3 linked regions of the Homo sapiens genome follow. The protein of the gene in region 1 interacts with the protein of each later gene in a pairwise test. Each region holds a gene or a part of one and is shown in the gene's direction. Other genes may lie near its edges.

Region 1 (7,276 bases):
AAGTCGTTGTTATTAGTTGAACTACATCAGATTTTTGTTTTAGTGTTAGTGTGCATATACATGTGTATGTGTATATATATATGTATTTATAACTATATAGACATACATATATACATACATATTTACACATACATATATACACACACAAACACACTTTTTTCCAACCTTTCTGTGTTTTATTTAAGGTGTATCTTAAAAGGAACATTTTGTTGGGTATTGTGGGACTATGGTTATTGATGTATGATGTGATAGAATTATAGATATTTTCTTTATGTATATCTGCATTTTCTGTGAATTGTATTAATAAGTAAATTTAAATATTTAAAACTCACATCATTGACCTTCAGAAGAGACAGATTAAAAAATAAGAATAACTTATTGTCCTTATATGTATGCAATATTTAATATTAATGCTTCAGGCACTAAGGACTAAGGCATTAATGCTTCAGGACTAAGTCAGATTATTTGTAAAAATAAACCCAGTTTTGGCCTTTAATATGAAATGGAGTTATTTCTTTAATACGAAATTGAGATTGAGATGGATTTGCAGAAGTGCTGTTTAAGAATCGTAAGATGAGATTTTACAAATATTCATAATTAGCTAAGTCTTCCACCTCAGCACTTCCCAAAATCTTAGAATCTCAAGAACAGTAGTGCGCACTTTAAAAAGTCTTCTCAAATATTTCGAATACAGCCCTCCTTTTTCCTTGCTCTTCTCCCAATACATACTCACATTCAGAATCATTAGTAAGAAAAGAATAAGCTAATCATGAGAAGCTGAAAATGAAAATCTATAATGTATAGGATGATCATGAAATATACAAAAAGGAGTGTTTTAAAAGTAAAGGGGAGGACTATTGACAATCCCCTCAAGACAATTTTCATAAACTTAGACCAGTGGTTCCCAACTACAGGCGATTTTGGCAATATCTGATGTTTTTGATGGTCGCAATTAGCAGAGTGTTACTGGCATCTAGCCAGCAGAGGCCAAGGATGCCGCTAAACATCCTCCACTGCACAGGACACCTTACATCAAAAAAACATCCGGCTCAAAATGTCACAGACGCCGAGACTGAGAAACCCTGCTTTAGACTAACCAAGCAAATGAGAGTATGCTCACTCTTAATTATGGGTGGATAACAATACAATCATACTTTACTAAGCTTGGGGAGAATTTGATATCCTTACACAAACATCCACAGAGTTTCAAACTTACGTGTGGTTTTTTTCCCCTCGATAAAATTTCTTTTAAAATAACAACTGTAGTGCGAGTCAGGAGATTTCCACAAGGTCTCTGAAAGAATGACCTTTGGACATAACCAGGCTTGGATTCAGCTCCTGGTCGCATTACTTAGTGGCCGTGTGGTCTGGGTGAGCTCCTTTATCTCTGAGCTAATGCAGGTCATTCCAGGTGCAGGGATTGCAGCTGAGCACGGTGGAGTAACAAGTCGGGGAAGCGAAAGAAAGCAAGGAGAGCGCGTCCTCCCGAGCATTTCCAAAACCAGTCTCTGGAGTACTTTCCTTAAGACAATGGATTGATATAAGGCTATGAAGGCTGTGATGAAAAACCGTTAGAGAAAACTGAAAAGAAAGCAAACAGTCTGTTAAATGAAGGATTGAAATGTCAGTGGTCAGTCCTCAGCCACATAGTGAAGCAGAGACAAGGCTGTCTCCAGAGGTGCTTTCACTCCCACCACTTTACTCCCCTGCCCCCACGTCCCCCAAACGCAAGACACAAATCTTCACTTATTTCTTCCCAGTTAAAACGTGTGCGGGAAACCGAAAAGCAATGTAAACCTCTCCTGGAAAGGAACAAGTGCCTCGCCAAGAGAAACGATGAACTGATGGTGTCCTTGCAGCGCATGGAAGAAAAACTAAAAGCCGTTACCAAGGAAAATTCAGAAATGGTGTGTATCACAGACTCTGCAAAACTGCAGCTTCCTTGATTATATTACCTTAATAACCTGACTTATTGCCATTTCTCAGCTTATTTTAAAAATACAGTGCTATTTGGATTTTTCCTTATGTAAGCAAGGAAGCCTTAATGAAGAAAGCAAGAGAAGGTTGCTGGCTCTGAATTTTATGAGGTTTCTATATTTGCAAAACTGTAGGAGTGCTTCCAGGAATTTGCACACTTTCCAAAGCTTGGAAATGGAGAAGGAAAGCTTTGACATAACTTAGCCACAGAAACCATCCATGACTTCACTAACATGCTATTTACAGACCTATACCCCAGGCACACCTTGTCTTCTAAGATCGTGCATGATATTTGGGAAATAGATACCATTACTTGTGTTATATGCGGACAAGTGAAATGATAATGTACTCCTTAATAGACTTTCAATACATCTATAGAGATCTTTGACAATCCCCAATGATAATGACTTATTATGGCAGATAAAATGTGCTTGAGGATTTAGTTGGTGTATGTGTATTCAGGCTGGGCAATTTCCAAATTTAGCTGGAGCCTCATAAACTTTCTACAGATATTTTATGTTAACAACCAAAGTTTGAGGTTTTTAAAGTCTCCACCTGTACTTTCTTCTTTTCCAATCCAGAGAGAAAAAATAACATCCCATCCACCCCTGAAGAAATTAAAATCTCTGAATGACCTCGACCAAGCTAATGAAGAACAAGAAACAGAGTTTCTAAAACTTCAGGTCATTGAGCAACAGAACATTATTGATGAGCTCACAAGGGTACGTGTCAATCAATCTGTAAACCCTAAGTTGTTCCCAAGGACAAGTAGCCAACAAAATATACACTGAAAGCAGTTAATTTTAGTTTAACCCCAGAGGCCCAAGTTCATATGTTAAATATGTAATTTTGTTCTAGAGACTGTATTCCAATATTTTATATTGTTCAACTGCTTTACACCTTTTAAATTATAACCCTTTGTTAACTAATTTGGTAGCACAAATAATAACAGCAAAGCACATTAAAAGAACTTTTAAATGCCTCGTTGTATAAGTTTGTAGGTAGGTTGGGTGTGTCTTGTAACTGCCTTCCAGTAGCAGGATCCCGAGGCTCAGAGATTTAATATGTTGTCTATGCTAACAACATCACATATATACCTTGTTTCCCAGGTCTCAATTCAGTGTCTAGCACATAGTTACAGTTCAACAAATATTTGTTGGATGAACAGCAACAATATAATTACATAACAGAGCTAAAATTTCAGCCCAGATTTTCTGATCATTACTTCAGTACCTACTGAGTGGGTAGAGCAGTTATTACTTCCATCAGAGTTTGGCTGAGGTTTGTGTTGCTAGTAAGGATGCACTAAGACCTCTAGGTGCCTTTGGGTTTTCTTCTTTGCCTCTCCATCTGTGTTCTGTGAATGACATCGTTGGTTGCTCTCACTTCAGGACCAAGTCAAGGCCTAAAGACTTGAATTGCAAGGAGGGAGTTAGGCAATAGTCTCCAGAGTGAGGTGAGAAAAGTGATTCACTGCCACTGAGACAGAGAAAGGTTATAGCTTCTGTTTATAATTACTTATGATTCATCCTTTTTAAAATTTCTATGTTGACTATATGTTACAATGAATACATTAGATTAGGAAGGTAATTTAAATATATAATTGTATTAGGGCTCTCTAGAGGGACAGAAGTAATAGGATAGATGTATATATAATGGGGAGTTTATTAAGGAGTATTGGCACACACGATCGCAAGGTGAGGTCCCACAATAGGTCATCTGCAAGCTGAAGAGCAAGGAAGCCAGTCCAAGTCCCAAAGCTGAAGAACTTGGAGTCTGATGTTCCAGGGCAGGAAGAATCAGGAGAAAGATGTAGGCTGGGAGACTCAACCAGTCTAGTCTCTTCACGTGCTTCTGCCTGTTTTTATTCTGGCTGTGATGGCAGCTGTTTAGATTGTGCTCACCCAGATTGAGGGTGAGTCTACCTTTCCCAGTCCACTGACTCAAACGTTAAACCTCCTTTGGCAACACCCACGTAGACACACCCAGGAACAATACTTTGTATCCTTCAATCCAATCAAATTGACACTCAATATTAACCATCACAATAATGTGTAAATTGTAAAAGTCTCATATATAGAGGCTGCATTTTTACTTATAAAGGTGAAAAAAAAAAAGCCCGAACACCACTGGCTTAAACAAGATTACTCATTACTCCCTGTTTTCCTCATTTCATTTTCACATCCTAATAACTCATACATTTTACAAATTCATGAGCCCAGGAATTTGCCTGGCTTTGAGTATCCTGAGATTAAGCTGTAAATTTTTTATAGAATTTTGGGCTATTTAGGCACACTCATCGGACTTTTCAAAAGACATTCTATCTAGTTTAAATTTTTACAGTAAATACATGGAGTGCTTAGTGAATAAACCCCAAATTCCCATGATATCTCTATTCACAGCAACAATAAATCATGAAATTGATCAATATTTCTAGGCATTCTTTGAGATTCCCAGAAAATTTTTTAAAAACTGAAGACAAAACAGAAACACTAAATGGCTCCAACCCGCTAGCTACTCTGTTCCCTGTCCTATTTTCAGGGACTGCAGGTGAGAACAAGGATGCAAAAATAGGCCAAAGACAGCTTTCTATGCATTTCAAATGACTAAATGAAAAGAATACGGTTTTACTTTATTGTGAAATTGTATTTTTAACACAAATTTAAAGTAATTTTGGATCTAGGAGAACTAAAGTACTGTGCTTTGGGGGAATATAAGTAACTATTTTCATAGCTACTTGATGTTCAAGTATAAAACAGGATTCTGATTAGGAACACAGTACACTTTCTGATCATGAGGCTCCTTGATCCACATAACTCATCAGGAATAGTTGTAGAAGATTCTTGTTTTGAATATATTTAAGTATCAATCCCAAAAGTTGCCAAAATTTAAAAAACAAAGTCTTATTCTATTCCAAATATAATGCCTTATGGGAAAGAACACTCTGTCTTTGCAAAAAACTATAAAGAAACATCTACCAATTCTGGATCTGAAAATCTTTCATCTGTTTTCCAGGACCGAGAAAAGCTCATCCGTAGAAGAAAGCATAGAAGAAGTTCCAAGCCAATTAAGGTAATAAGAAATCAAAGTTATCAGGCATTTGCCACAAACAGCCAGAGAGATGAGGCTTGGCATGGAATCTTCCTACAAAGATGTGATGAATCAGGTGTTCCAGAACTGTTGCAGCAAACCATGGGCATTATTTGCTAGAAGAAAATATTTTCTGTTGACATTTCTTCGAAGTCTAAAAATGATTATGTTGTAAATTTTAACCTGAAAGGGGTTTGCTTTAATATAACTTTCTCTAAATGGAGATGCCCCTAGGTTTGATGTAGAAAGGATTACCTGACAAGTTGGAGAGTCATATTCAAGAAATGCACATGATTTGATGTCTCCCACTTATGACAATTAATACATTTTCATTATTCATTCAGACAATCTTATTGATAGCAATGCTCCCAATCCATCAATATCTGTATAGCCTCTTATAATCCACAAAGTTTTGTTATTCAGTTTGTCTATTTGATTTTTATTTTGGTTTTTACCAAGTATACCATTGGTTTTTAATGTGGACTTGGATGACAAGGCTTAAGATTTGATCATCTCCATCACATAGATACCTGAGTTTTCAAAATCCTTTGGTCATAGTTTAAATACAGGAAAGAGTAAACCACACTAGCTCATCATGATATAAAATGTAATATGAAAGAGGTTTCAGTGTTTCTATGAAAAAAGCTACATATTATGAATTTTTCTTAAGATGTCAGAAGTGAAATAATATGAGAGAAACACTTATTGGAATTATGCTCATGCCTAATGTTTTTATTTCAACAAAGAAGCATAGAGGATCCATGTCTTCTATATTCACTTACACGTATGCCAGTTGACAGTATTTTAACGTTCAACTTTCCCTACTGTTAGCTATGTCAGTAAATAGGTACTTTCCCTCCATTTAGAGGCCTGTTTTGGACCCGTTTATTGGCTATGATGAGGACTCTATGGATTCAGAGACATCATCCATGGCCTCATTTAGAACAGACAGAACACCAGCTACTCCTGATGATGACTTGGATGAAGTAAGCTTTTCTACTTCTCTAGCCTAGGGTGATATTGTCACCAAATCTTTGATTTAAGGGGGAAGAAAAAGGATTTCACTTTTCATCTCCTTTATATAAACAGCACAAAGTGATCTCATAATAGTAAACAATTTTGAGGCTGCACTTTATTATCTCTTGAAAAATAGCTTCACTTATAGCAGGTAAACCTTTTAGAAATTTCTCTCCAGTTCAACTCTCTAATTTGAAGACTTCTTTCAAAATAAAAGTTACTTTCCAATATTCTTTATCTAGGGAAGGTAGGAACCCAAGAGGCCTTAGCAGGCTTTTGGATGTGGTCTGACACTGTTGAGTGAAGTGTGTTCTGTGGACCATCCTCATCAGAATGATCTAGAGGGCTCAGTTACAATGAAAAGTCCTGGACTCTACCATGCAACTCCTGACTCAGGATCTTAGGAGTGAAACACCCCAGTCTGCATTGTTTCCCAAAATTCCCTGCTGATTATGTTATGTCCTGAAGTTTAAGATGTAATGCAATAAAACAGATTTTATGATTTATCTGGGGGAAAAAACAAGTTGCTGGAGATGAACATACTGAAAAGAAATAAGAAAATTCTAGGGTATCATTTCCTCAAATTTAGGTCCAAAATCTGGATATGACTTTTTCTTATTTGGATCCAAAATTGACTACATTCTAAGCTCAAATGATTAACAATGAGAAATGTATCAAATGCTAAATGCTTCTTTTACTAAAATAAATATTTATGTATTTCTGCAGTGTCCATCTTGAAAGTATTACAGTATTTGTGCCCGTATATACACTTCAGAGCTAAAAATAAAATCAAATAGACTGTTAAACAACCTTTTACTTCTTGTAAAAAGTGGGCAAATGTTAATATTTCACATTGAAAACAGGACCTGAACATAACACAATTGTTTTGGGGCTTTTTTTCTTAACCTCAAGAGTTTAGCAGCTGAAGAATCTGAACTAAGATTTCGACAATTAACAAAAGAATATCAGGCCCTCCAAAGAGCATATGCCCTCCTACAGGAGCAGACGGGAGGCATCATCGACGCTGAACGAGAAGCCAAGGTTAGTGTGTATCTGTGAGAGTGCTCTGAATTAGCGTGCAGCAGTCACAGCATAAAAGCACTGTGGACATAAAAATATCAATAAGACAGCTTTCCCTGTATTCTTCTCTCCTCTGCAGCTTTTGAATTGTTATAGCTTTTATGTCAACAAA
Region 2 (8,121 bases), on another chromosome or scaffold:
GGCAACCAGCAAAAACAATCTTTACATGTTTGTTTTAGCTGAAGCCTAGAAGTAGATTGTCTTGATATTAACCAAAACAAATATCTAAGAGTGTTTCCATCAATCCAGACAATTAGTAAAATGGTCTCCAGTGTGGTCTCCCCTGTGTCCTGCCATGCCTCCCCTCACTGACAAAAGTTTGGGTTGCACCCTCTTTCCAAGTTCTTTCCTCTCCCTCCTCATCTTGACAGTTTACTGGTCTGAAAAAAAAAATAGGTTGGTAAATAGTGATCTAATATGCAAATAGAGGAATATGTCTAAATATTAACATTATCAAACAATATTAGTAAGACAGTTTGGTTAATGTTAGTCCAAAGGAAAATTTAAACTCCAGAACATTTAATCAAAATATAAGTGGCGTAAAATGTCTCATTTTATCTTTTCATGAGGAAAGGTAATATATTCCATATTAATAAAAATAAAATGCATTTCAAATGAAATGCCATTTAAATTTGCTATTTTGTTTATGATTGGATTTCAAAGCTAGGAGTAGGATCAAAGAGCATGTGGTACAGGTAAAAGAAAACCCTAAATCCAGCGCTTTGGGAGGCCGAGGCGGGTGGATCACCTGAGGTCAGGAGTTCAAGACCAGCCTGGCCGACATGGCAAAACTCCATCTCTACTAAAAATACAAAAATTAGCCAGGCATGGTGGCGTGTGCCTGTAATCCCAGCTACCCGGGAGGCTGAGGCAGGAGAATCGCTGGAACTTGGGCAGAGGCTGCAGTGAGCCTTGACTGCGCCACTGTACTCCAGCCTGGGCGACAGAGCAAGGCTCTGTCTCAGAAAAAAAGAAAACCCTAAGTCATAGATCAAAGGAATGCTGTAGTCAAGTAAACGAGGGGAGAGACCAAAGCTGGGGGGAGTGGCAAGTAGCAAAGGCTTAGAGTGGCAGAAGCTCCCGGAGGCTGAATGTACCCTAAGATGAAAGACAGGAAAAGCATCGATTTAAAATGACGGCTATGTTGCCCAGGCTGGTCTCAAAACTCCTGGGCTGAAGCAATCCTCCTGCCTCAGCATCCCTAATAGGTGGGGCTACAGTTGCATGTCACCACAACCAGTTAATTTTTAAAATTTTTTTTCTGTAGAGACGAGGTCTTGCCATGTTGCCCAGGCTGGTCTCAAAATCCTGGCCTCAAGTGATTCTTCCACCTCAGCCTCCCAAAGTGCTGGGATTACAGGCGTGAGCCACAGTACGTGGCCTAGTCTTGAAAGTCTTAACACTGTAGATTTCACCAAATGTCACTTTGAAAACCAGGCACAGATAACTGGCCCCTTGAGTACAAAGGAATCTGTAAGAGCTAGTTAGGGAATGAAAGAAGTCCCAGAGACAGAGTCTAGTACCCATGAGACCTAAAACCAGGAGTGGTAAGGGTTCTTTGTCGAAGATTCAAATTTATTTTTCTCTGCAACAGTCACGAAGTCACCTGCAGCTGAGGATGAGAAAACACAGTTAAGTCCTCACTTAACATCACTAATACGGTAAGTCCTCACTTAACATCATTGATAGGGTCTTGGAAACTGGGACTTAAAGGGAAAAGACATATAATGAAACTAATTTATTTTTGTCATCAACCTTATAACAAAATGTGCTTTCACTTAAGATAACAGTTTCCAACCTATCTAGGACATTGAGGACTTACAGTGTTAAGAAAGTAGAATCTGTACTGGTTTCAAAGGCGCTTACTTCTCTTCACTACTTACTTTTCACCAAAGCCCTAAAGTAGCAGTTCTTAGTCTTTTTGGCGGTTTTTAGAACTTGATGAAAGCTATGAACCCACTTACTAGAACATACAGATACACACACACACACACACACACACACACACACACACACACACACACATCCAATTTTGCATACAGTATCAAAAGGTTTACAAAAATCTCCAAACCCATCCATGGATCCTCTGGAACTGCATTGGCCAGTATGGTAATACTTGGCAAGACTAACTCCATTTTAAGTGCCCATTGGCTACCATCACAGAAAGTTCTATTGGATAGCACTGCTCCAGACATGGAGGCAGCTTAAGAACCCTGGCCCTGGCCGGGTGCAGTGGCTCACGCCTGTAATCCCAGCACTTTGGGAGGCCAAGGTGGGCGGATCACCTGAGGTCAGGAGTTCAAGAGCAGCCTGGCCAACATGGCAAAACTCTGTCTCTACTAAAAATACAAAAATTAGCCGGGTGTGGTGCGTGGTGCCTATAATCCCAGCTACTCGGGAGGCTGAGGCATGAGAATCGCTTGAACCTGGGAGGCGGAGGTTGCAGTGAGCTGAGATCCCACCACTGCACTCCAGCCGGGGCGATAGAGCGAGACTCCATCTCGAAAAAACAACAAAAAACCCCTACAAATCTGCTGGCCTGTTAACACCACTCCTAGTCTAATACCAGCTAGTCTGTTTTCCACATACTGGCAGATCACAAAGAATTGGAGGAGGACTACTACCACCACTGATTTTGAATAACCCTGAAAGTTCATCTTTTTTTAAAAAATTAAATTATTATTGCTATTTTTTGAGATGCAGTCTTGCTGTCGCCCAGGCTGGAGTGCAGTGGCACAATCTCAGTTCACTGCAACCTCTGCCTCCCAGGTTCAAGTGATTCTCCTGCCTTAGCCTCCCCAGTAGCTGGAAATACGGGCGTGCGCCACCATGCCCGGCTAATTTTTTTGTATTTTTAGTAGAGACGAGGTTTCACCGTGTTAACCAGGAGATGATCTCGATCTCCTGACCTCGTGATCCGCCTATCTTGGCTTCCCAAAGTGCTGGGATTACAGGCGTGAGCCAGCGCACCTAGCCTAAATTCATCTACTTTTAAGTACCTATAAATAGCATAAAATCAAAAGGACCTTAGATAGAAAATGATTAATCCCTCATTCTCCCTATCTCAAGGTATGTGTAGTTCTGCAAACATTCCCATGCCACAGATTCTGCAATAATAATCTGAGTGGCTTTTCTTTTTTGAGATAAGGCACACATTCAGGAACTTGCTGTGCATGCGTAACAGCTACTATTTATCGGATTCATACTATGTGCCAGGTACTGTTCTAAGCATCCTGTGTAGCTCCGCTCATTTCATCCTAACCCAGTGATATGAGGTGAGGTGCGTATAGTAGTCCCTCAAAACAAATGAGGAAACTGAAGTTTGGGGTTTAGTGAGATTACATAAGTTGCCTGAGATTACATAGTAAATGTCAGAGAAAAGTGGTTTTGAGGCTAGAGTCTTCTGCAATTGGTTATGAGTCTAGAATCTATGTCTCTTGAAATAGGAATGTCCAATGATCGTGCCATTGCACTTCAGCCTGGGCGACAGAGCAAGACCCTATCTCAAAAACAAAAGAACAGGAATGCCTAAAACCACCAGAATGGTCCTAGGGAGCAAACAAGGCTTTCCAAACTGGACCTTGAGTGCTATGGGGTCGCTGGCTCTGCATCTGCCACGACAGCCTGTGGATCTGTCATCTTCCCTGGAATAAAATTTTTAAAAAAGGCCAGGCGTGGTGGCTCACGCCTGTAATCCCAGCACAGTGGGAGGCTAAGGCGGGCAGATCACTCGAGGTGAGGAATTTGAGACCAGCCTGGCCAACATGGTGAAACCCCGTCTCTACTAAAAATACAAAAATTAGCCGGGCGTGGTGGTGGGCGCTTGTAATCCCGGCTACTCAGGAGGCTGAGGCAGGAGAATCGCTTGAACCCGGGAGGGGGAGGTTTCAGTGAGCCGAGACTGCGCCATTGCACTCCAGCCTGGGCAACAAGAGCGAAACTCCGTCTCGGAAAAAAAAAAAAAAGAAAAAAACTAAAATATCAGTACTCTTTTCACTTAGTCATCACAAACCCCTTTAATCCCATATTACCCTCTACTATCATGGTAGCCTCACCTTTGACGACAGACTAGCTGTGTGACCCAAGTAAATGACTTCAGTGCCACCACCTGTAGGAAGGGGCTGCTAATAGCATCTGCTTCATACTAACGTGTTTTCAGGATCGATCTGCATATAAACGCTCAATACACGGTAACTGATTGTCACATTCTATCCCAGGACGCTTCCATTTGCGGATCTCATGGCCCGGAGGACCTGGGCCGCCTCACAACTGGGCAGCCCCGCTCACCGACACAAAGCCCACAACCGCGCCCAATAGGGAATCGGCCCTGCGGCCCTCCTGCCACTCGCCCCCAACTATCACAGTCCACGGCGGAGCTGGAGGCAGATCCCGCCCTTGCAGGGCTGGGTAAGAGACTGAAACTTGGAGAATGAACTGCAGGCGCTGCACATCTCGGGCAGATTTAAAATTCGGTCTAAAATCGGAAGCAGGTGCCGCGAACCCAGACCCGAGCGCTCCTCTGGGACGTCCAGCCGCAGAAGCGAGCCCAAAGCCCAGCAGGGTTCTCCGCGGGACTCGGGGTTTCAGAACCGCCGGGCTCTTGGGCGCTCGCCCAGGGCGCACGCGCAGTCGCGAGGCCGCGCCGCGGACTGCATCTCCCAGCAGGCCCCGCGCAGCAGGCCACGCGGCGCCACTGACTGGGCGGGCGGCTAGCTCCCTGGCCTCCCCGACATGCCGAGGAGCCCCTGGCTTCCGGAGCCGACGAGGCCGCAGGGGCCAATGGGACCATCTTCAGCCAGCCCAGAGTAGCCGAAGCGGGTGGGGCCTGGCTTGGGAAAGGATTCATCCGGGGAAGCTGATTAACAATTCAGATTTCCGGGTCTCACCCCGACACTGACGCACTGGAGAGCGCGTGGCCCTGGGATCTGCGTTTTCCCAAGCGCTCCGGAGTAATTCTAACCCAGGTTGCCCGCCAGTCACAACGACCTCAGGCTTGTTTTCTTCGCTTGGATCCAGCTGCCCTGCCCCCAGTCACTCCCAGAATTTCAGGGCGCGCCCCGTGGCCCCGCCTCTCGTCTCCAATTGGTCCCTCGCTCATCCAGTCCCCGTAGGCCAATCTTCCCTTCTCATTGGTAGGCGGTGAGTGTGTGGAGAAACCTGACCTAATGGGCGCTGGAGTTCGCAAAACGTGACCCGGAAATTGGTCACGAGCAGGCGCCGTGGGCTTGTGGACGCCTAACTTGCGCGCTGAGATTTCCGGCGTGGGAGCAGAGGTCTGAGTCTTGCGTGGGTCCTCTATATAGGGTGAGAAGCGTGGCGCTCGGTTCCTGCCTCGGGGAAGTCCTGGCGCAGATGGGCCACGGGGCCGGCGTGGCGGCGCCTGGGACCGACTGAGGCCTAGGCGCCGGAGCCGGCCGCGCCTGGGCTGGAGCGGGGCTCCTCGGCCTGGACTGGGAGCCCCCGGCCCCGGGCTCCTGCTGGCGCCGTCCAACCTTACATGGGTTCAGGGCGCCTTCGTAGGCGGGCACGGCTGGTTTCGGGCTAAGGCGCTCTGGAGACCTGACGATGGCGTCGGGCCCGGGCTCCCAGGAACGGGAAGGGCTCCTGATAGTGAAGCTGGAGGAGGACTGCGCCTGGAGCCAGGAGCTGCCCCCACCTGACCCAGGACCGAGCCCCGAGGCCTCCCACTTGCGCTTCAGACGGTTCCGCTTCCAAGAGGCAGCTGGTCCCCGGGAAGCCCTCAGCCGGCTCCAAGAGCTTTGCCATGGGTGGCTTCGGCCTGAGATGCGCACGAAGGAGCAGATCTTGGAGCTGCTGGTGTTAGAGCAGTTCCTGACCATCCTGCCCCAGGAGATCCAGAGCAGGGTGCAGGAGCTGCATCCGGAGAGCGGCGAAGAAGCGGTGACCCTTGTGGAGGATATGCAGAGAGAGCTTGGGAGACTGAGACAACAGGTGAGAGAGAGAGAGAGCTGTTTTATCTGTGGTTTGTTTAGCCCTGAGCACTGGGACATTGCGCCCCCGGTCGAATTCAAGTAAATTGCCCTGAGTAGACCTTACGTGGGGAAGAGGACTTGTGATTTAACCTGGAACACTCATCCTCCAGATTTTCCCCCAAATGAACGAAAGCAGTGAAGAGTGCCCTGTTTCCACGCGGAGGCGGTGTCCCTGCAACAGTTAGTGTTAGCCATGGAGTTAGATCGCCAGCGTTCAAATCCTCAATCTGCTAGTACTAGCTTTGTTACTTTGGCAAGTTACTTGATCTCTTTCGGCCTGTTTTCCTATTCGTAAAATGAGGATATTAACATACTTTCTAGGGCTTAGAGGGAGAGCAGCATGTAAAGTTGTGAACACTACTAGCTTATGAGTGCTTAGTACTTGTTACCTGTTGTTATGTTAGGGTCCACGGTCTGGTCTTCTCTGCAAAGCTGGGCCTCCGTTAATTGTGAACTTTGAAAGATAATTTGGCACCGAGGCCCTGAGGTCATTGGTCCCCAGGGCTACCCCAATTTAGCCTATCCTATAGTGAGGAATAGAAGCACCTAGAAAAGGTGGGGAGAGCAAAAGGGAGTGAGGTGTATCTTAAGAGCTGTGTGGGGAAGGTGTGCTCTGGGAGTGGGCCCTTTCCCTAACCCCTCCCCCTGCACATGGGATCAAAAAAGCCTTTAGTGTAAACCATTTTTCTGTTACCTGGGCCCAAAGGGATCGCCTGAGGTTCTCTGTTGAAGGTTTGCTCTCAGTATCCTATACTAATTTCCCTTCCTCTTGGGCCCTGTTGTGATGATGAGTGATGTGGGTTGGTTCCCAGGTCACAAACCATGGGCGGGGAACAGAAGTGCTTTTGGAGGAGCCTTTGCCTCTGGAAACAGCACGAGAGTCACCGAGCTTCAAGCTGGAGCCAATGGAGACTGAGCGAAGCCCTGGCCCCAGGCTGCAGGAGCTGCTAGGCCCCAGCCCCCAAAGGGACCCCCAGGCTGTAAAGGAGAGGGGTGAGGCACAGTTATCTGGGCAGGTGGGAGGGAGGAGGGGCTTGGGGGTTGCCCCCGACACTAGCTGGATGTAGCAATGATGCGAAGGAGAAGGAATTTCTGAAGATCAGGTTCTCACCTGTGGAATGAAAGACCTGCAGTTGGTGGTGTGGGTTCTCCTGGGGCTGGGGGAAGGGAAGGGAGTCTCAGTAGAGCCCTTTTTTATGCAGAACAGAGGCGATTTAGAACCACTTGAATGACGCAGGGTTTGGAGTGCTACTCTTGGTACTCCTTCCCTCTCACCCTGTCATTTTGGATATCAGCTGATTAGGCCTCTGTGCAGTTTAGCGTCATTCCCAAAAGCAGAGGCTGGGTGTTGGGGAATGGATACTGTGTTTTAATAATCCTTGGGTTGCCAAGAGTTAGGAATGCCATTCTCATTATAATTTCTGTCACCTTCAGCATTATCTGCTCCCTGGCTTTCTCTTTTTCCTCCTGAAGGGAACATGGAAGACAAGGAGATGACTGGGCCCCAGGTGATGTGGAAGTTTCCATTGTCTCCCCCCAGCACCCTTCCTCCCCTGAGTGTTGGGGGTGGGGGTTCTCCATGTGGAAGGTCCTTTGTCCCTTACCACAGCGTCTCCCCCACTGCTTTGTCTATTTCACACCTCACTTGGAGGCCTGATACCCTTCTTCCCCCCTGACATGTGCTTGGCATCCCTGGATTTTGCCCCTTTAACCCATGACTCTGCTTGAATTGTTCTTGGTGCATCAGGGGCTAAAGGAGATCTTGTGCTGTTTCAGTTGCCTGAGAGCTTAGAGGACGTGGCAATGTACATCTCCCAGGAGGAGTGGGGGCATCAGGATCCTAGTAAGAGGGCCCTCTCCAGGGACACGGTGCAGGAGAGTTATGAGAATGTGGACTCACTGGGTAAGGACTTCTTTTCCAGGGATGATGACTGCGCCATTTCTGACCAGGGTCCTGCCCGTTATTCATTCACCTCCTGGACACAGACTCTGAGTTTTGCCAAGAAGCCTCCACAGGAGACTTCCCTTTGTCTAAAGTCCCCTGTACGAGAGTCATGTATCTGCCAAGTGGTACAGTTGGCACAGGCAGCCCGGGACTGGAGTCCCAGCTGCCAGAGCCTAAGGCGAGTCTGAGCCATGTGCACTTCCTAGGGCAGAGCAAACCCAATGCGGTGACAACCTGCCAGCATCACACACATGCAGTATTCCAGGATGCTGGGGGGCTCTAAATGGTTGATTCCTTGCAATTTTCAGATGCTTATTCTTATGA
Region 3 (7,276 bases), on another chromosome or scaffold:
CTTTTTTACCAAAAAAAAGTCCTGACTCGGGAAACTAGCAGTTGCGGCTCTCTTTCTTTATTGATAGAGTCTCACACGGCTTCCATAGGTGAACTATGGAAGTTCTATGGAAGAACTATGGAAGAGTTCTATGGAAGAGAACGGTTTATCGTATCTCTTCCCCATCTTTTACGTACATTTTCTTACTCCTCCCTTCATACTTTGTCTCATGCTATTTATCTGTGTGCAGTAATTTGACTTCTGCCTTTTGAGGTCCTCACCATTTTTTTCGACTTCTTATTCATATCCTGTCTCTAGTTCACTTTAATCTCCTCATTCCCTAACTTTGTATGTGCTTTTTTTATCCATACCACCCAATTGTTATTTGTTATCTTGGGTTTTGTCCTCGGATTGCTTTATTTGTGCAAGTGTCCTATTCTCTCGGCAAAATTTTAAACTTTAACTGAACCATGAGAGTAAATTGTAGTGTTGTTTTCACTGTAGCAATGCACAAAACAGGTGCTCAATAAACACTTGGTAATTTGTAAATAGTTGAGGTAGAAAGCTCTCTACCAGGATGAAAGGAATTTGTCCAAGAATTAGGCTGGCCTTTATATTCTGTTCCACTGGGCTATTTGAATATCCCTGTGTCAATACTGCACTCCATAATAAGTAGTTTTTAAAAATAAATCTTGATGTCCAGTAGTGGAAAACCTCCTATCTCATTCTTGATCATTGTCTTGCTGATTTGGGGCTTTTATAAATCACCCTTCCGTATACATTTTACAATAAACTGTTAAGTTTCCTTTTAAAAATTCTGTTGAGGTTTTATCTGATGTTTTAGTTGAAGCTTAAATCAATGGGAAAGAACTGACATCTTTACAATAGTCAGTTTTTAAATTATGAGTTTAGAATATCTTTCTGTTTAATTAGGCCCTTTGAAAATATCCCAACAAAATTGTGTAATTTTTTTCTACAGGTATTTTATATCTGCCTTGTTAGGTCTATTGGTAGGTACTCCATACTTTTTGGTGGCATTATAAGTAGCATCCTTTTAACCTGAAGCCCAGAAGTATACGGTAAATATAGACAGAAAGCTCCAAGAGAAGCCCCCTCTATTTCTGGTCTGAGGAGCAGAAAAGGGGTCTCCTATTAGATAGAATGTGGATGAAATCACCTGTTATCTTTATTGCTTGCCTTTTCTTTCCCTTGTTTCCCATCCAGTCCCCAGGCAGTCCTACGTGGTATGGATGGGCAGCTGTGAATGGGCAGGCACCCGAAACCCCAAGGAAGGGAAATCCATGTCTCTGACCAGAGAAACTTTGGTCCAAGGACATAGATGGAATCCACATTGGTTTTTCTTCTGTTTTCTCACTGCTTGGCCCCAGAGGCACAATCAGTCTCAGGATTGTATGACAGAGCAAGGAAACGAAAGCTTAGACATTCTACTCAGAATACCGGGAAGGGATGCCCAGGAGCAGGAAGTGTCAGGGAAATCATAGAGAGGAGGGGACTCAAGAAAGAGGCCTCACAATTTTGGCTGTGAACTCCTAGGTCTTCTTGCAAGTGGTGTATGCATGGATCTGACCAAAGCCTTTGGTCTCCTTGGTAGACCACTGCTTGGGTCCCAGCCTGACTACTGGGCTGCACAGCACATGAGACAAATTCAAACAGCATTGCAGAGGCTGCGGAAGCGGAACCCACATCAGAACCACAGTGCACAGAGGGTGGTCAGGAACTTCTGCCCAGAGGCTACATGGGTTGACTGCCTGCTAAAATGAAACAGTCAACATCCTCCATAGGATTTAAACAAGACCTATTCCAGTGTCCATACATAATATTCAAAAGACACAAGATACAATTTAAAATTACCCAAAATATGAAAAAGTCAACACCTCTTACAAGGAAAAAGACAGTCCAAGCATAGCAGCTTTGAGATGACATGGACATTGCAATGAACACATAAAGATTTTAAGTAATGTAACCACACTCCAAGAATTAAGGGTGTAGCTGGGCATTGTGGTGCACACCTGTAGTCCCAGCTACTCTAGAGGCTGAGGCAGGAGGATCACTTGAGTCCAGGAGTTTAGGCTGCAATGGGCTATGATTGTGCCACTGCACTACAGCCTGGCTAACAGAACAAGACCCTGTTTCTGAACAAAAAAAAGAATCAAACGTGAACACTCTTGAAACAAATGAAAAGAAAGTTTCAGCCAAGAAATAGAAGATATGAAAAACAACCAAATGATACACCCAAGTGTATACACACACACACACACACACAAGAGTACAAGCAGAACTGTGGAAATCTCAGACTGGTGAATTGTATCACTGCCAACATCCTGGTTGACATATTATACTTATTATACCACAGTTTTGCAAAACATTACCTTTGGAGGAAACCTAGTCAAAATGTACAGGGAATCTCCTTGTATTATTTTTTATAAAAACTTTAAAGAAAATATTTTATAACTGAAAAATGTAATGAAAAATAAAAATTTACTCTTCAGGTTGCCTTCACAAAATGTCTCCTCTCCACCCTCTTCATTCAGTTTCTGCTGTTGGAGTTCAGGCTCTCATGCTTGGACTATGCTAATAATGTCTGACTGGTCCCTGCTTCCAGCCTCTCCCGCTGTGGTTTCGTTGCAGCCCTGCTGTCAGGAGAGTGTTATTTAACTAGACTCTGTTCATGCCAGTATTCCTTTTCAAAGCCCAGCAGAGGCTCCTTCTTTACAGAAGAGTTCTCAGTCCTTAGCTGGGCACTGGCATCCCTGTCTGAAGTGTTACTGTGACCTGTCTGTCTAGTCTTGCTTTTCCTACATTTCATAAGTACTCTGTTCCAGCCAAGCTACTCACTATTTTCTGTGTCTTAAGATTTTCTTTTTGTCCATCAAGAATGCCTGCCCTCAGTTCTTCCTGACCATACGGCTAGTATTCTCAGGAAGAAATCTGACCTGTCCCTTAGGACCCATCTCAGAATGTGATCATCTTGATGAGACATTAATTGATCTTTGTAGCCACTGTTACTGTCTCCTTCTCGTATGCTAGTGCTTATACCAAAACATGTCCTCATATGTCTGTGCAGTTGTTATCCAATATGTTTTCAGAAGTGAGTGAGATTTCGATAATGAGGGATGCATGTACTTTAAAAAATACATTTTATGTTTAATGTTAAAATTCTTGCTTAAAGTGTTTTATTTTTGTGTCCAAGGATTAATGACATCAAAAAAAGATAGTGCTTCTGAGTCAACACTTTCATTGCCTCCTGGTGAAGAACTTAAAACTGTGACAGAGAAAGATGGTAATATACCTTGTAACCTCTGTTTCTCAAAATTTAACTTTTGATGGAACTTTAAAATATGGTAGGAAAACAGTTTATATGGAGGTTAAGTTTTAAAGTTGGCAAGGGAAAAATTATAGTAAAAATTAAACTTGGAAATCACTGAAGCAGCTCATAGCAAGCTATATACATTATATTTTTTGTGTGTAAAGTACTGCATTATGATTCTTTTACTTAAATTAGATAACTACTGGACTAGATTTAAGAAAATAAACGGAAATTCCATAATATAGAGCACTCTACACAAATGTTTCATTTGCCTTTAGCTATCAAATCATTAGATGAATTGAGCATGAGTATTCCTTCTTGCCTTCTGGTTTAACTCAAAATGTCTTAATATTAAACTTTTGTTGCCTTAAAACATATTAATATCATGTTTAATTTTTGTATAAAAGGGGACTCTACTATGTCATCTAAGGTGAGAGGTGACTGATGGTCATTAGATTAGGTAGTCAGTTCACATCAATTGATGTGGTGATACCTCTTACATAAGATTGTGATCTTACCGTGGGAATCCTTAAAATATTATTGCTTGTGTTATAAAATCTTTTATATATAAACTACAATTGCTATTTGGATGAAATTAGGCATTTAATTTGACACTAGATAATCCATAATTGAGGAAGTTAAATGAAGAATTTCAGAAAGATTTGCCTTGACAAGCTGCTTCTTGGTCCACATCTTATTTTCCACCGTTTGACACGTTCTTTATCTGTTACAGTTGCCCTGCTTGGATCTGTCAGCAGCTGCTCCTCTACATCTTCTTTGGAACACAGACAGAGCTACCCCAAGAAACAGAATGCAATCAGCAGTAACAAGAAGACAATGAGCAAAAGCCCTTCCCTTTCATCCAGAGCCAGTGCTGGTATCTATGGCTTTTTCAACCAGGCTTTCTTGGTGTTTTTTATCTTGGTTTGTTTGTAAGTAGATTTGCTCTTTTTAAATGTGTAGAAGGAACCCTTTACTTCAATCAGATTGAACTACTTTTACTCTTCCCCACCTCCCCCGAACCTTAAGCCTTAAGGTCTCTTTGTTTTGCCGTCTCAGATATAAGACTTTGCATTTATTTTCATGTAATTCATTCTTAGTGGTTTTACCTCATCTGAATTTAGCTTCTTCACAGGCCTTTGTGTCATCTTCATATTTAAAAAGCATGCTTTCTGTGTTTTTATTCAAGTGATTGTTTTAAAACTATGTTTGCTTAAAACCTAGGAGAAGGTCAGAGGGTCCTCTCCCAGGATGGCAATACCAGCCAGTTTTGATATGGCTTTTTAACTAGCCGTGAACCTGCATAATCTCACTCAGTCCACATTTCTTCAGTTATTTGTAAAGATACGTAAAACACTTTATCAGACTTCTTTTCGAAATGACATAGATTTTGTCTGTTGCAGTTCACTTATTTGCCTATATAGCGAACTTGTCCAGAAAGGCAAAAGCCATCTTGGCAAAATACGTTCTTCATGAACCTCTTTATTACCAGATTCTTTTTTTAGTGCTTCTATTAATAGTTCTTGTAGTGAACCAACATTTTATTATGGAAAATATTCATGACAGATTTCTAAAAAAATACTTGATGGGAAGAAACCTCCAAAGCTCTCAACAATAACATTGACATAATAAGCCTAAAAACTGGGACCCTAAAAGTAGAGAACCTGAAAGTTTTCCCTGAAATTGTTTGCCTGGAATATTTATTCTCTGAGTGGCTTCCTCTCTCCATACCCCAACCAGTTTTTCTTTATGTTGTGAGGAGCAGAGGTGAGAAGGTACAGTGCTGACACAGCCATCCTGTTTGTCCAAATTTCATTCACATTTTAAGGCCCCCTTCATTTGGTATTTGCACTTTTGACATTTACTTGATTTTAAAATTTATACATGGGTATGGAATTACTTTTTTTTTTTTAACCTTCTAAACAAAGTAGTCTAGCGTGCCTATATATTTACCATTTAAAAAAATAAATTTGAGGGTTATGTCGACTTAAACAACAGTGAAGATGAAGAGAGTTATCAGAGTGAGAAAGAGGACCTTTCAAAGAGGGAGATGGGCCGAGAATGGGAGATATGGGAAAGTCTGTGTTGGGAACCCCAGAGACATGTACTTAAAACATGTTTCTCTAGTGAGTAGATATTCCACTTGTTTTATAGATTTGCATTTGAGGGAGATGTAGACTGCAGAGAACGAACAATAATGGAAAGTTAGGTTAAAAAATTAGAGAAAGAAGAGTGGAAATAAAGGATTCGGGGAATGGGAAAGGTAGGGACCTCGGCCTCATCATATCCCATTGTTATTTACTTTTTATTTTTTATTAAAGACAAGGTCTTGCTGTGTCGCCCAGGCTGGGGTGCAGTGTTGCAATCATAGTGACTGCAGCCTTCAACTCCTGGACCCAGGTGATCTTCCTACCTTGGCCTCCTAAAGTGCTGGGATTTACAGGCATGAGCCATCATGCCCAGCCTGTGTCCCACTGTTGAACTTGCCATCTTTGGTTCATTGTCTACAGGCGACAAGGGGACGGGCCTGAGGATTTCTGATCACAGAGTCTTGGTTTTAATCTAGGTGTACCACTTACTGGCTGTTAACAGTGTGTCTTAGTTAATTCCTGAGTTTGTATCTTATTTTTCAGCATAATTTTTAGGAAAAGCACTTTGTAAACTATGAAGTGCTATAGAATATTGGTTATGATGAGGGCCTCGGACTTACTGGTATAATCCAGACCTTCTCCATGGGTTTATTTTCCTTGTTTAGTTGCTGTGTTTTTGATTTCTTCTTTTTTCACAGTATGACTTACCCTCCATCCCATGCCCTCCTCCAGAGTTCTCTACTCCCTCTCAGATGGCAGCTCTTCAAATCTTTGTTTATGTACTGATGGGACAAGGCTCAAGCACCCACTTCTTCTCTTTCAGCTGTTATATTTGAACAGCTTTCTAGATCATATTTCTCTAGGACTTCTATGTTTAATAGTGGGCATTTCAAGGTTTAGTTTTGAATCAGGTTGACAGGGCAGTGGTTTTGTTCTTAATAACAAAATCACTTTAGGATAATTAGAACCGTATAGCAATTTAACCTTCAAATCACACTACTTTTGGCTGGTCACAGTGGCTCATGCCTGTTATCTTAGCACTTTGGGAAGCTGAGGTGGGAGGATCACTCAAGCCCAGGAGTTTGAGACCAGCTTGGTCAACACAGCAAGACCCTGTTTCTTTAAAAAAAAAAAAAAAAAAAAAAAAGTCAAATCACATGACTTTTTATATAATTTACACTGAGTCTAAGTGAACTATTAATACTATAATTCTAGTATTTTAGTAGAATAGAAATTGTCAAACTATGGCCCATGGGCCAAATCTGACCTACCACTTGTTTTTGTAAATAAAGTTCTTTGGAATGCAGCCATGCACATTTGAAAAAAATATATTGTCTATATCTACTTTCATGCTGCAACAGCAGAGTTCAATAGTTGTGGCAGAGGTGGTATGGCTAGCAAATCCTAACATATTTACTGTCCAGCAATTTGCAGAAACAGTTTGCTGTGACCCCTGTTCTAGTAGAGATGCTGCAGGCAATCTTGGAAGAGTTGGTAGTTTACCAGGGATCAGGTTTTGTGAATTTCCCATGGCAGTAATTTTCCCAGGAAACTCTTCACATTTCCTTTGAGCAGCTTGACCTCACATGTGAGAAACACAACTGTAGATGACTTATGTGATGAAAGGCATCAGATATCAAAATCACCAACTAACTAGACTAGTTAGAATACCTAGTGTGATTTTTTGGCTAATGTGCTTTTTGAGTTTTTCTCCCTTTGTTTTTTCTCCTCTTTTCCTGCCCTGCCCCTGTATCCCTCCCTGACTTAAACAGGTTTGAATTCCTCAGCAACATCTACAGCAAATAATAGCCGTTGCGAGGGGGAACTCCGCCTCGGAGAGAGAGTGTTAGTGGTAGGACAGAGACTGGGCACCATTAGG

Evidence for each region. The genes of interacting proteins can lie anywhere in the genome.
Region 2: the proteins of JAKMIP2 (region 1) and ZNF263 interact in binary tests that used the Homo sapiens proteins (3 or more experiments, as listed by UniProt).
Region 3: the proteins of JAKMIP2 (region 1) and CLIP4 interact in binary tests that used the Homo sapiens proteins (3 or more experiments, as listed by UniProt).

Annotation. Positions count from the first base shown.
Region 1 is NC_000005.10:147,639,481-147,646,756, reverse strand, and holds part of JAKMIP2 (janus kinase and microtubule-interacting protein 2), read left to right. Parts: intron 1-1,760; coding exon 1,761-1,907; intron 1,908-2,558; coding exon 2,559-2,699; intron 2,700-4,992; coding exon 4,993-5,049; intron 5,050-5,933; coding exon 5,934-6,053; intron 6,054-6,996; coding exon 6,997-7,125; intron 7,126-7,276.
Region 2 is NC_000016.10:3,278,395-3,286,515, forward strand, and holds the start of ZNF263 (zinc finger protein 263), read left to right. Parts: upstream 1-5,096; 5' UTR 5,097-5,424; coding exon 5,425-5,811; intron 5,812-6,664; coding exon 6,665-6,845; intron 6,846-7,286; coding exon 7,287-7,360; intron 7,361-7,628; coding exon 7,629-7,755; intron 7,756-8,121. UniProt on the Homo sapiens protein: Transcription factor that binds to the consensus sequence 5'-TCCTCCC-3' and acts as a transcriptional repressor.
Region 3 is NC_000002.12:29,153,164-29,160,439, forward strand, and holds part of CLIP4 (CAP-Gly domain-containing linker protein 4), read left to right. Parts: intron 1-3,190; coding exon 3,191-3,280; intron 3,281-4,040; coding exon 4,041-4,184; coding exon of another isoform or gene 4,185-4,239; intron 4,240-7,169; coding exon 7,170-7,276.